Linked DNA regions of Homo sapiens: region 1 is linked to region 2. Evidence: fine-mapped expression QTL. A gene starts in region 2. The other region holds a variant in brackets. All regions are shown on one strand. Distances are from middle to middle.

Region 1 (5,380 bases), 73 kb before region 2:
TGGCTAAAATGGTAAATTTTATGTTGTACATATTTTACCACAATAAAAATAAAATCAGAGGTCTGGCAAGGTTACGTTTCTCTTTAAAGGGTCTAGAGGAGAATCCTTGCTTTTTCCAAGATCTAGAGATGACCTGCATTCTTTGGCTCATGACCCACTTCCTCCATCTTCAAATCCTGCAAGGACAAGGCAGGTTCTTCTCACATCACATCACTCTGACCTGGGTCCATAGTTTCATCACCTTCTCACTCTTCTGCCTCCCTCTTCCACTTTTAAGAACCCTGAGTCCACCTGATAATCCGAGATAATCTCCCTATCGTAAAGTCAGCTGATTAGCAACTTTAATTCCATCTGCAACTTCGATTTCCTTTTTTATGTAATCTAACATATTCCCAGGTTCCAGGAATTAGAACATGAACATTTTGATGAGGGATGGAGGGGACAATTATTCTGTCTACCACAGGAGCTATTAGCAGTACTTTTGTATTATTGTAAAATAATATACATAAGCAGGATGTGGAATAAAGAAACAAGCAACATGAGAGAGAGCCTCTGGACTGAGCTTGACCTTGGGTTTGGAGGAAATCACAGACACAGGGTGAATCATAGTAGAGACAGAGTTCCAGGTCAGAGGTTTCTCACAAGCCAAGCAGCAAAGCACAAATCCAAATCCATCCTGGAACTTGAGTTTTAAAAAGAAGAATCAAGGGAGAAATTATGGTGGAGAGAATCATCGCTTTATGAAAACAAACAAAAATATATTTTTTATATATATTTATATATATATATATATACATATAAAATTCCGATTCACTTGATCATTTTAGGACACAGGACTATGTTTCACCCAGGTGGAGTCTGATACCCGCTGGGAAAGCCTGGTGTGGTGGGAAAAGTCAGAGACCTCTGATCCCTTCAGATCAAAATGGCCCTCTATGTTTTCGGGAGGTCTATGCTTAAACACTTCCATGGGTCTTCATGAGAGTCAAAGAAAGATGCCCTTTCTTGATAAACACCAATGCCATTGGGTACCAGCATTGTCCCTTTCGGTACTCAGAGTTCCTTCTAGCACCCACCAGCTGTTCACAGTGCCAGGGGACTGGGCCTTATAAGAGCACTACTTGGGGACTAGTTTTTTAACAAATTATCAGTAAGTTGCAGTCAGGAACTGTGTGTTTCTTCATGTGTCTCTACCCATCCCACCACCCAGCGTCTGCACAGAGTAGGTATTCAACAGGTACTGGTTGGATTGAATTGAGAAAGGCCAAAGGATCAAATAAAGAGTTGACGGGGTCTCTAAGACCTGGAGTCGAGGAGGGAGGACAGAAGCTGGAAGCCCAGGCTGATAATGATCAACCCACACAAGGGAAAGGAGGAATTCCTGGGTATAGCAGGGCAGGTCAGAGGGTTTCTTCGCTGGGAAATGCCTGGACCACCAATAACCCAGAATAATACAGCACTGAACCTGAAACTCCTGCTGAAAGAACATGAGTTTTCCAGAGCTTCTTTCCAGCCCGCAGCTCATGCCTCCTCCATTCAGAATAGGATACAAGCAGCTCTGGGAGATGTCCAAGTTAGAAGGGAAATCCAAGAATAGCTAAGGGGAGATAGGGACTGCAGCACTCAGCACCTCCACCCTCCTTCCCACTGGCCTGCCTGCCTCGCTCCTGGGTCCAGGGCACCAGATTCACCATCTTCCCCTGAGGCATGAAACTGCTCTGGTATCCAAGAGTCAGGCCATTATATGGCCTGTCTTTCAAGTGGCTTTTTATAGCGTACTCAGGTGATGAGCACGTTGAAACAAATGAATACAAATGAAAAAGGCATCTGCTTTGCCAAGGAAATGATATTTATTAGGAGGTTAAAAGGGAGGCCCACTGGCACATCAGAGAGTTCTCTGGGTGAGCATAGGAAGGAACAGACCCCCAGGAAGGAAAGGGTGAGCAGGACAGTCTGGAGTAGTTGGGGAGGCTACAGGCTTTGGGTGAGTTTCTTGGCTGCCTTACGCGGGCAACTCCAGCCATGCAAATGATGTTTTCAGGCCCCTTTTGTTGAACCAGAGCCAGGTCACAGCTCTGGAGTCCTGGGCCCTGCATCCTTGCTCCTCTGGCATTCCCTAGGTTCTAGCGCACGAAGGAATTGCAGGGCCCACAGCGGGGGCGTGGGGCACAGGGTGTGCAGGGGGCAGGAGGGACACAAGAGGTACAGGGATTGGAGAGACAGGGTCCGATGGGCTTGCTGCACGCGTTGGTCGTGGCACAGGGATTGCTGGGCAGACTGGAGACAAAAGAATGATGTGGAAAAGTGAGTTAAGGGCAATTTTAAAATCATATGCCAGAGATATCCCCAAGGGTAAGAATGCCTGGGTCAAGGGACTTGACCTGGCCTAGAACAGAAAAGGCACAGACTCCCCTGCTACAAAGATAACTAACTCAAATTGTTAATGGTCTCCCTGCCATAGAGCACCAAGGTAGACAGAAACTCTGAAACTCTGATGTCTACTCTCAAATCCATTCATGCCAAACTGATGACATGGGGTGAGTCATTTACCTTCTCCAAGCCCCAGTTTACTTTCCTGTAGAATGGAGGGAATACTGATCCAGCCCACCTGGTGGTAATTATAAGATCAAATCAGGTAGCCTATGGGAATGTACCCACTAGGCAATACAGTATTGTAAAAAGTAAGGCATTGATCACATATCATGCAGTCATGCATATTATCATACTAGAATGCAAAGACTTGGCAGTGCAATTTCAGTTTGTACATCAAACAACTCTTGCTACCAAACCATTTATGTTTTAAATGATGGCCATATTATGTTGTCTGAGTTCTGTTTGAGCATGTCTAGTGTGAAGGCATAATTTCCTTTCCAAGGTATGCAATATTTGCATGGTGTCTAACTGTTACACTCACACGTGCATCATTTCATCAAACACGTCTGCCCATGTACTCA[C/T]TTGCAGTCCTCGCTCTCCAGCAGGCTCCGGTATGTGTTGATCTCACACTCCAGCCGGGCACGCACATCCAGCAGCACCTGGTACTCCTGGTTCTGCCGCTCCAGGTCACTGCGGATCTCCGCCAGCTGGGACTCCACGTTGGTGATCAGGCTCTGCACCTGGGACAGCTGGGAGCTGTAGCGGGCCTCACTCTCTGTCAGCGTGTTTTCCAGAGAGTCTCGCTGTGGTGGAGAAGATTGGGAATGTCAGAGAGCTGCTCCTTCAAAGGGTTTCTTCACAGGATTACAAGGAAGTCACAAGCTCCAAGAGCTAAGGAGAGTGTGTGGCCCCAAGCACATCCCCGGGACTCTGCCTCCCAAGTTCCCGTCGCTCACCAGCAGGTCTGAACAATACACACCAGGTTGTGCTGGGCCTGCAGCTCGATCTCCAGGGCGTTGACTGTGCGTCTCAGCTCGATGATCTCCGCCTGGTAGGACTGCAGCTGCTCTGAGCTGGATACCACCTGCTTGTTCAGCTCCTCGGTCTGAAACACCCAAGGGGAGAAAGGATCAGACCCTGCCTCCGGGGCCCTGGGGGGCCTTGGGTCCTGAGGGGCCACGTGCTTAGATGCCCACCTGCGTGGTGAACCATTGCTCCACTTCCCTGCGGTTGGTTTCCACCAGGGCCTCATACTGACTCCTGGTCTCGTTCAGCACCCGATTCAGGTCCACAGTGGGAGCAGCATCCACCTCCACATTGAGGCGGTCTCCAAGCTGGCAGCGCAGGGTATTGACCTCCTATGGATGCAGAAAATACAAGAGTTACTATGCTCAGCAAAGAATGAACTCTAAGGAATGGCATTGCTTGTTGAAACCCTGTTAGTCTATTTTCTCGGAAAAGAAACTTTGAGTGGAGCAGTTTGTGACAGCTCAAGGCACTCCATGTGGCATAGCCCCCTCCCCACCATCTGCTGTGCCATGGCACTTGGCTTCAGAAAAAAATCCCAAAAGTTTGCTTGGATGCCACTGAAGGATGAACTAATTGATATTCAACTTTCCCAGTTTACAATTGGCTGTGAGGACCTCAGAATGCCAAAAAAAATAGGCTGTGCAATTTCAGACCATATATCAAAAAACTCTTGCTGTCAAGTAAGAGGTAAGAGCATGTCATGGCCCCTCCCAAGAGAGAGGAAGAATCTCACAAACACTCTTCACCAATACTTTGAAAGAGTAGAGACTCACATTTATAAGGTTTGATATTTTTTTTCTTGGCCTTTGCCAAAAAAAAAAAAAAAAGACTTTACAAAGCAATAACACTGCAATGCTAGGACTCATTCTACAACTATTGATCAACTGCAAGCACATGGAGCTGCTCCGGGCAACTCAAATAATGTGCTAGTTTAAAGTGAAAGATGTTTCCTGTCTGGGAACATGAACAGGTCTTATCTCTCTCCAATTTTTCTCTTACCGTGATGTTTTCAAAGGAAACCCTCAGTCTTGTACTCATACTCTGCATTCTGCTGCCCCAAATCACTAAAGCAACCCTGAGCCAGAGGCTGAGACAGGTTTGTGCATTTCTCATTTCTAGTCTCACCTGCTCATGGTTGCTCTTGAGGCAGAGCAGCTCCTCCTTCAGGGACTCCACCTGGGCCTCCAGGTCGGACTTGCACAGGGTCAGCTCATCCAGGATCCTGCGCAGACCGTTGATGTCCGACTCCACCAGCTGCCGCAGGGACAGCTCGGTCTGGTACCTGCGCAAGGACAGGGTCAGAGTACTACCTGGTAGATCTTCAAGACTCACAGGAATGATTTTTGATAACCTCATGTGCCTTATCTTTCCACTTTCTGTAATGAATAGGCCCAGGAGACAGAGGTTTCTGGAGGCTCCATCAATACCCAATATTCATCCCAAAACAAACAGATTGATGTGAGTCCTCATCCATTTTTGCATTTCTTTGCTTGGTTCTCCCCAGTCCTCTGCAGAATCCTTCACAACAAGTGGGTAGATCTGTTTTCAGATGGAAATCCCTTTTCTTTAAAGATTAAACAGAAGCAATTGACACTAGTGCAAATTCCGAACAACTCACTTGGTTCTGAAATCATCCGCAGCCAGCTTGGCGTTGTCGATCTGCACCACAAGCCTGGCATTCTCAGACTTGGTACACAGGATCTGGGGAGTGAGAGGTGGCTTAGTGAGGACTGAAAATAAATATGAAATCATCAACTTTTTAAAAATGACTTAAGCCATTTTGAAATAAAAGAGGAAGCAAGAATTATGACAGCACAGAAGCAAGAAACACACTTCTCTATCACAGACAGAATCACAGCAAACTCTCTTGCTTGGAGATGACAGCAATGCCGCTCACCTTCTGCTGGAGCTCCTCAATGGTCTTAAAATAGGACTGGTAACTGGGGCACAGCAAGGGCTCCTGCTGCTGAGACCGCTC
Region 2 (5,380 bases):
GCCGTTCCCAGTTCTCTGATTTGAGCAAGATGAGTCAGGAGCCCGAGGGTGCTCGGTGAGTACGTGGTGACTGATTGTTACTTTACACTTAAGCCTGAGGAAACCCAGCCAAGATTCAGAGGCACTTGTTCATTCAAATCCCAAGTCAAGAGGTTGAGAGTCAACCAGGGAGGGGGGAAAAACACCATGGCTCAGGTGGGCTTGGCAGCACACAGGTGCCCAAAGCAGAGGGCTTCCCCTCCAAGAAACTTCAGGAGATAAGGAAAAATCAGAAAGTAAAGGGCTTCAGCTTGAGCATTTTATATGCAAACAGAAGGGAGGACAAAATAAGGATAGGGGCAAAAAGAGGAGACCACTGCAGCTGTACTCCCTCTCAGAAGAGATGGGACTGCTTCTGAGAGTTGAGCCAGGCAGAGATGGACAGGCCATTCAACGTGAGATCTGGAACATAACTCACCCCGGCACCACTGCACCACTCTACCTCTGCTGTGTGGCTCTCGAGAGAAAAAAATGCAGTTGCCACTAGTGAGTGCTTGGCAGTCACACTAGCCCAGGAAATGCAGAAGGGAAGGGGGCTACACTTCTGAGAGTTGACCAAGTGGCAGGTGTTTCATACCCATGCCTTGGGGATTTCCATGATCCATATCCTGTCCATTAAATCCTCACAATAACCCTGCGTGATCATGTTGTCCCCATTTTACAGAAGAGGAGGCTCAGGAAGATTCCATAAATTGGGCAAAGTCACTAAAACAACATGTGGCAGGCTTGGGAATTTCAACCCACGCCTATCCAACCCCATACCCCACGTTCCTCCCCCTCTGCTTCCCGGGGCCACTTCAGCGGGACTTCCAGCCTCACCTCCTCATGGTTCTTTTTGAGGCACATCAGCTCCTCCTTCAGGGACTCAACCTGGGCCTCCAGGTCAGCCTTGCACAGAGTGAGATCATCCAGGATCCTGCGCAGGCCATTGATGTCGGCCTCCACCAGCTGCCGCATGGCCAGCTCTGCCTCGTACCTGCACAAGGACAGGGTCAGCAACCAAGGGTGAAACAGAATGCAGAACTCAGGGAAGGCCTTAAACTGCCGGCACTTTCCAACCCTCCGTGAAACTAATGGAAAGTTGCCCCAGAGCCTATGAGGACAGGTCCTCCCCAGCTCCAGCCCCCCGACTGAACTCACTTGGCCCTGAAGTCATCGGCAGCCAGTTTGGCATTATCAATGTTCACAACCATCCTGGCATTCTCTGCCTTGGTACACAGAATCTGTAGGCCAAGGCACATGGAGAGGGTTAGTTCAGGATGAGACGAAGCAAGAAGAACCCAAATGAAGAGAAGACAGCAGCAAAGGTAGGATCCAGCAGCCCTGCAGCCATCCCTGCAGAAGGTCCTCTTCCCTGGAACTCTGGGAGATATTTAGCGAATTGCTAGTCCTTGGAGAACTTGAGATGTATTTTTTAAGAACCTGAAGCTTCGTAAATTCAAATTCCCCATTTTGGATGTGCCAAGCAATGTGGAAGGGAAGAATCTCATGTCTGAAGTCACTCATGTGACAGTTAGAAGGGTCTTTGACATTTACTGAAAACTTACCGTGGACCAGGGGCTGTTCCAAGCACTTGACCTGCATCATCTCATCAAATCCTTTTGACAACCCCATTAGATAACGACCATTATTATCCCTGTTTTACAGATGAGAAAACTGAGGCCTGGGGAAGGGATGGGACCCCCAAAGTCATGCAATGAGGCAATGGTAGAACTGAGACTAGATCCCAGATCTCTCCACATGAAAGCCTCAGGCTGAGTGCTCAAATTATAAAATAACCCTATGCCCTAGGGAAGTCTCTTTGTCCTGAACATAGCTTAATAAGCTAACGAGATTCCAATCTGGAATGCCAGCTAGTCCAGTTCCCTTCCCAGAGAGCCTATTCACCTCACCGCTGCCCTCACCTTCTGCTGGAGCTCCTCAATGGTCCTGAAATGAGACTGGTAGTCAGGAGTCATGGTGAGCACCTGGGAGTGAGAGGCCTCTTGGATCCTGCTCTCCAGCTCCGCATTCTCCTGCTCCAGCTGCCGCACCCTCGTCAGGTAGCTGGCCAGGCGGTCGTTAAGGAACTGCATGGTTTCCTTCTCATTGCCATTGAAGGCCCCTTCGCTGTACCAGCTGCCGGGGCCCATGGAGCCGGAGATGCCACTGGCTGCCTGGCAGGAACTGGATAGATAGGTTTTGGAGAGGCAGCTGGCTGGCCGGAAGGTGGTGGGCAGGCAGACCGAAGGCAGGCATGCCATGGGCTGGCAGACATAGCCCAGGCACAGCTCAGGCCGGCAGTTCACGCCGCTGGAACAGACCGAGGCAGGCCGGGGGCAGCTCTTGAGAGAGGCTTGCAAGTTGTTGGTGACACAGCAGGAGGATGTCATGTTGGAGAGGCCCTTTCTCCTCAGCCACAGCTACCTGGATGTCTACAGACCCCATGCCGCCCGGGCCATTTTATGCCCTTGCAGTGAGGGGGCTCATGATAGAAATTCATCATTGGGTGGTGTTGATGTTCACACCCAGCCCCAGAGGAAGCTGCTAATTAATTTGTAATTTGGTTTCCAATAAAAGAGGCCAAACTTATCATTTGGCTAAAGCAGGAGTCTGGGTTCCTGTCATTGATCACCATGAGAGAGCTTCAGGACACATCTTCAAAGGGTCAGCCGCATGCCTGGGCCCTCATTACTAGGGCAGGCCCTCCAGGAGACTGCCACAACCCAGCCTGTGCCTCCACTGGCTTTGCCCACTGCACCCCCGCCTGCTCTAGCCCTGAGAAGCCTGCAGGTCTGTGCAGCAGTGGCTGCCTCTTTTAATGAAAGCATTCCCCATGGGAAGAGGCCTGGCTATTTAACAAGGAAATGTGTGGGTGGTAGAAACTGCTCCGATGCTGGCAGCGGCATAAATCCAGCAGAAAGGAACAGGAACCTCAGAGGCTTCCTAACAGACATCATCTTCCTGCCAAGGGGAAGAAAATAATATCAGTGGGGAGAGAATGAACTCAAGACATAGGCAGCATCACTTCTCAGCCTTTTGGCTAAGATCAAGTGTGGTATCTGTTCTTATCGTCTTAATATCTGATACGTCCTCCATCTGAGGACAACATATTAAATGGATTTTGGGAGCAGGGAGATGGAATAAGAGCTTGCTCTGTTCACTCTACATGTTGACCTGGTATTGCAGTACCTCCAGGAATGCTGCACCCCTTCAAAAGGCAAAAAAAAAAAAAAAAAAAAGACCCAAACAGAAGCCTAAGAATCAGGTACATCTTTCCAGTTGGTCTCTTCCTCTTGGAAAAGTCCATATCATGAACATCTCCAGGTGGCAGCTGCTCTGTCTTGACCCCCTCTGGACCATCCATTCAATTATCACTGCACCATATACACAATTGTCAAGTGCTCAATAATTGTTTGTTGAACAGACTGAGAATAGTTGGAACAGGTTCTACTTTTACTTTCTGTTGTGGCAGATGGGGAAGGCTCACTTCAGGATCTCAGACTATGGAAGCAGTGTGAATCCACTCCCTTGGGAAAGGATGTTCTATAGCCCTGGAATGAGCTAAGCCAGGAGACAGGGAGCATATTTGCCCAACTATAGAAGCCCTGGGCATTCACTTAAGAAGGCAACATGCTAGAGCAGTGGTTTTCAGTCCTGGCTGCAAAAGCTGTGAGCTTCACATTTAGTATGTGTGTGCTATATAGCCACTTTTTTATTCAGTAATCTTCTTGATATAATTTTGGGGTATAAGTACTTGCCTTATGTTTCACATATTCCCAGAAATGTCAGTACAAGAACAGGAAAGGGAAAATGCCACCCAGCTCATTCATTGCATAAGAAAAGGAGAGCGTAGATATACTGCCTCTGACTTGCCATTTGGCCTTGGGAAAGTAATTTTGTCTCTCCAGACCTCAGTTTCTTCATGCCAATCGAGGGGGTCAGATCAAATACTCTCACAATTTGATTCTCTGCAACAACTACAAATTCCAGTACCTTGTCTGGATTACCTATTTAGAGAAGATTATAGCATCAGATGGAAGGAGGTGTGATGGCAATACCAACTACAAGGGATGAGACTCATCAGGCCACCCTTCAGAATCATAGCCAGCACTTGTGGAATGTATACAAATACCAGGCATGGTGCTGAGTGCTTGGCATTAATTTGCCCATTTAATCCTCTCACCCAAAAACTATAATTATTATAATAAGGTGTTATCAGTCACTCTCAGCATCAACCTGACTCAGGAACATGTTAGAAATGTGAGTTTTCACCCTAGAAGAAAGTCTAGGCAATACCATTCAGGACATAGGCATGGGCAAAGACTTCATGACTAAAACAGCAAAAGCAATTGCAACAAAAGCCAAAGTTGACAAATGGGATCTAATTCAACTAAAGAGCTTCTGCACAGCAAAAGAAACTGTTATCAGAGTCAGCAGGCAACCTATAGAATTGGAGAAAATTTTTGCAATCTACCCATCTGACAAAGGTCTAATATCCAGAATCTACAAGGAGCTTAAACAAATTTACAAGAAAATAACAAACAACCCCATCAAAAAGTGGGCAAAGGATATGAACAGGCACTTCTCAAAAGAAGACATTTATGTGGCCAAGAAACATATGAAAAAAAGCTCATCATCACTGGTCATTAGAGAAATGCAAATCAAAACCACAATGAGATACCATCTCATGCCAGTTAGAATGGTGATCATTAACAAGTCTGGTAACAACAGATGCTGGCAAGGCTGTGGAGAAATGGGAAAGCTTTTACACTGTTGGTGGGAGTGTAAATTAGTTCAACCATTGTGGAAGACAGCATGGTGATTCCTCAATGATCTAAAACCAGAAATACCATTTGACCCAGCAATCCCATTACTGGGTATATACCCAAAGGATTATAAATCTTTCTACTATAAAGACACATGCACAAGTATGTTTATTGCAGCACTATTTACAATAGCAAAGACTTGGAACCAACCCAAATGCCCATCAATGACAGACTGGATAAAGAAAATGTGGCACATATATACCATGAAATACTATGCAGCCATAAAAAAGAATGAGTTCGTGTCTTTTGCAGGGACATGGATGAAGCTGGAAACCATCATTCTTAGCAAACCAACACAGGAACAGAAAACCGAACACCACATGTTCTCACTCATAAGTGGGAGTTGAACAATGAGAACACATGGACACAGGGAGGGGAACATCACACACCAGGGCCTGTCGGGGGATGGGGGGCAAGGGGAGAGAGAGCATTAGAACAAATACCTAATGCATGCGGGGCTTAAAACCTAGATGATGGGTTGATAGGTGCAGCAAACCACCATGGCACATGTATACCTATGCAACAAACCTGCA

Which allele goes with the higher level. Alleles are on the strand shown, and positions count from the first base shown. SD is a standard deviation of normalised expression in the study named.
In carriers of allele T in region 1, the expression in unexposed skin of the gene that starts at base 2,472 in region 2 tends to be lower than with C alone (moderate effect, 0.54 SD a copy in GTEx).

Evidence for each region. PIP is the estimated chance that this variant, and not a neighbour inherited with it, causes the effect.
Region 1: its variant is the best candidate, but not a certain one, in a credible set for the expression of KRT32 in unexposed skin (GTEx, PIP 0.72).

Annotation. Positions count from the first base shown.
Region 1 is chr17:41,391,893-41,397,272 of GRCh38, forward strand. It overlaps KRT31 (keratin 31), which reads right to left. Exons shown (of 7, transcript NM_002277.3): 1 at 5,300-5,380; 2 at 5,021-5,103; 3 at 4,528-4,684; 4 at 3,570-3,731; 5 at 3,353-3,478; 6 at 2,956-3,176; 7 at 1,829-2,277. The coding sequence ends at 2,124. Among named protein-coding and RNA genes, the nearest start is that of KRT31, 3.0 kb to the right of the region's middle. RefSeq lists enhancers at 1,641-2,142, 2,143-2,642. The variant C/T (reference allele first, on the strand shown) is at 2,955.
Region 2 is chr17:41,464,915-41,470,294 of GRCh38, forward strand. It overlaps KRT32 (keratin 32), which reads right to left and starts at 2,472. Exons shown (of 7, transcript NM_002278.3): 1 at 1,944-2,472; 2 at 1,180-1,262; 3 at 859-1,015. The coding sequence starts at 2,411. It also overlaps the pseudogene RNU2-32P.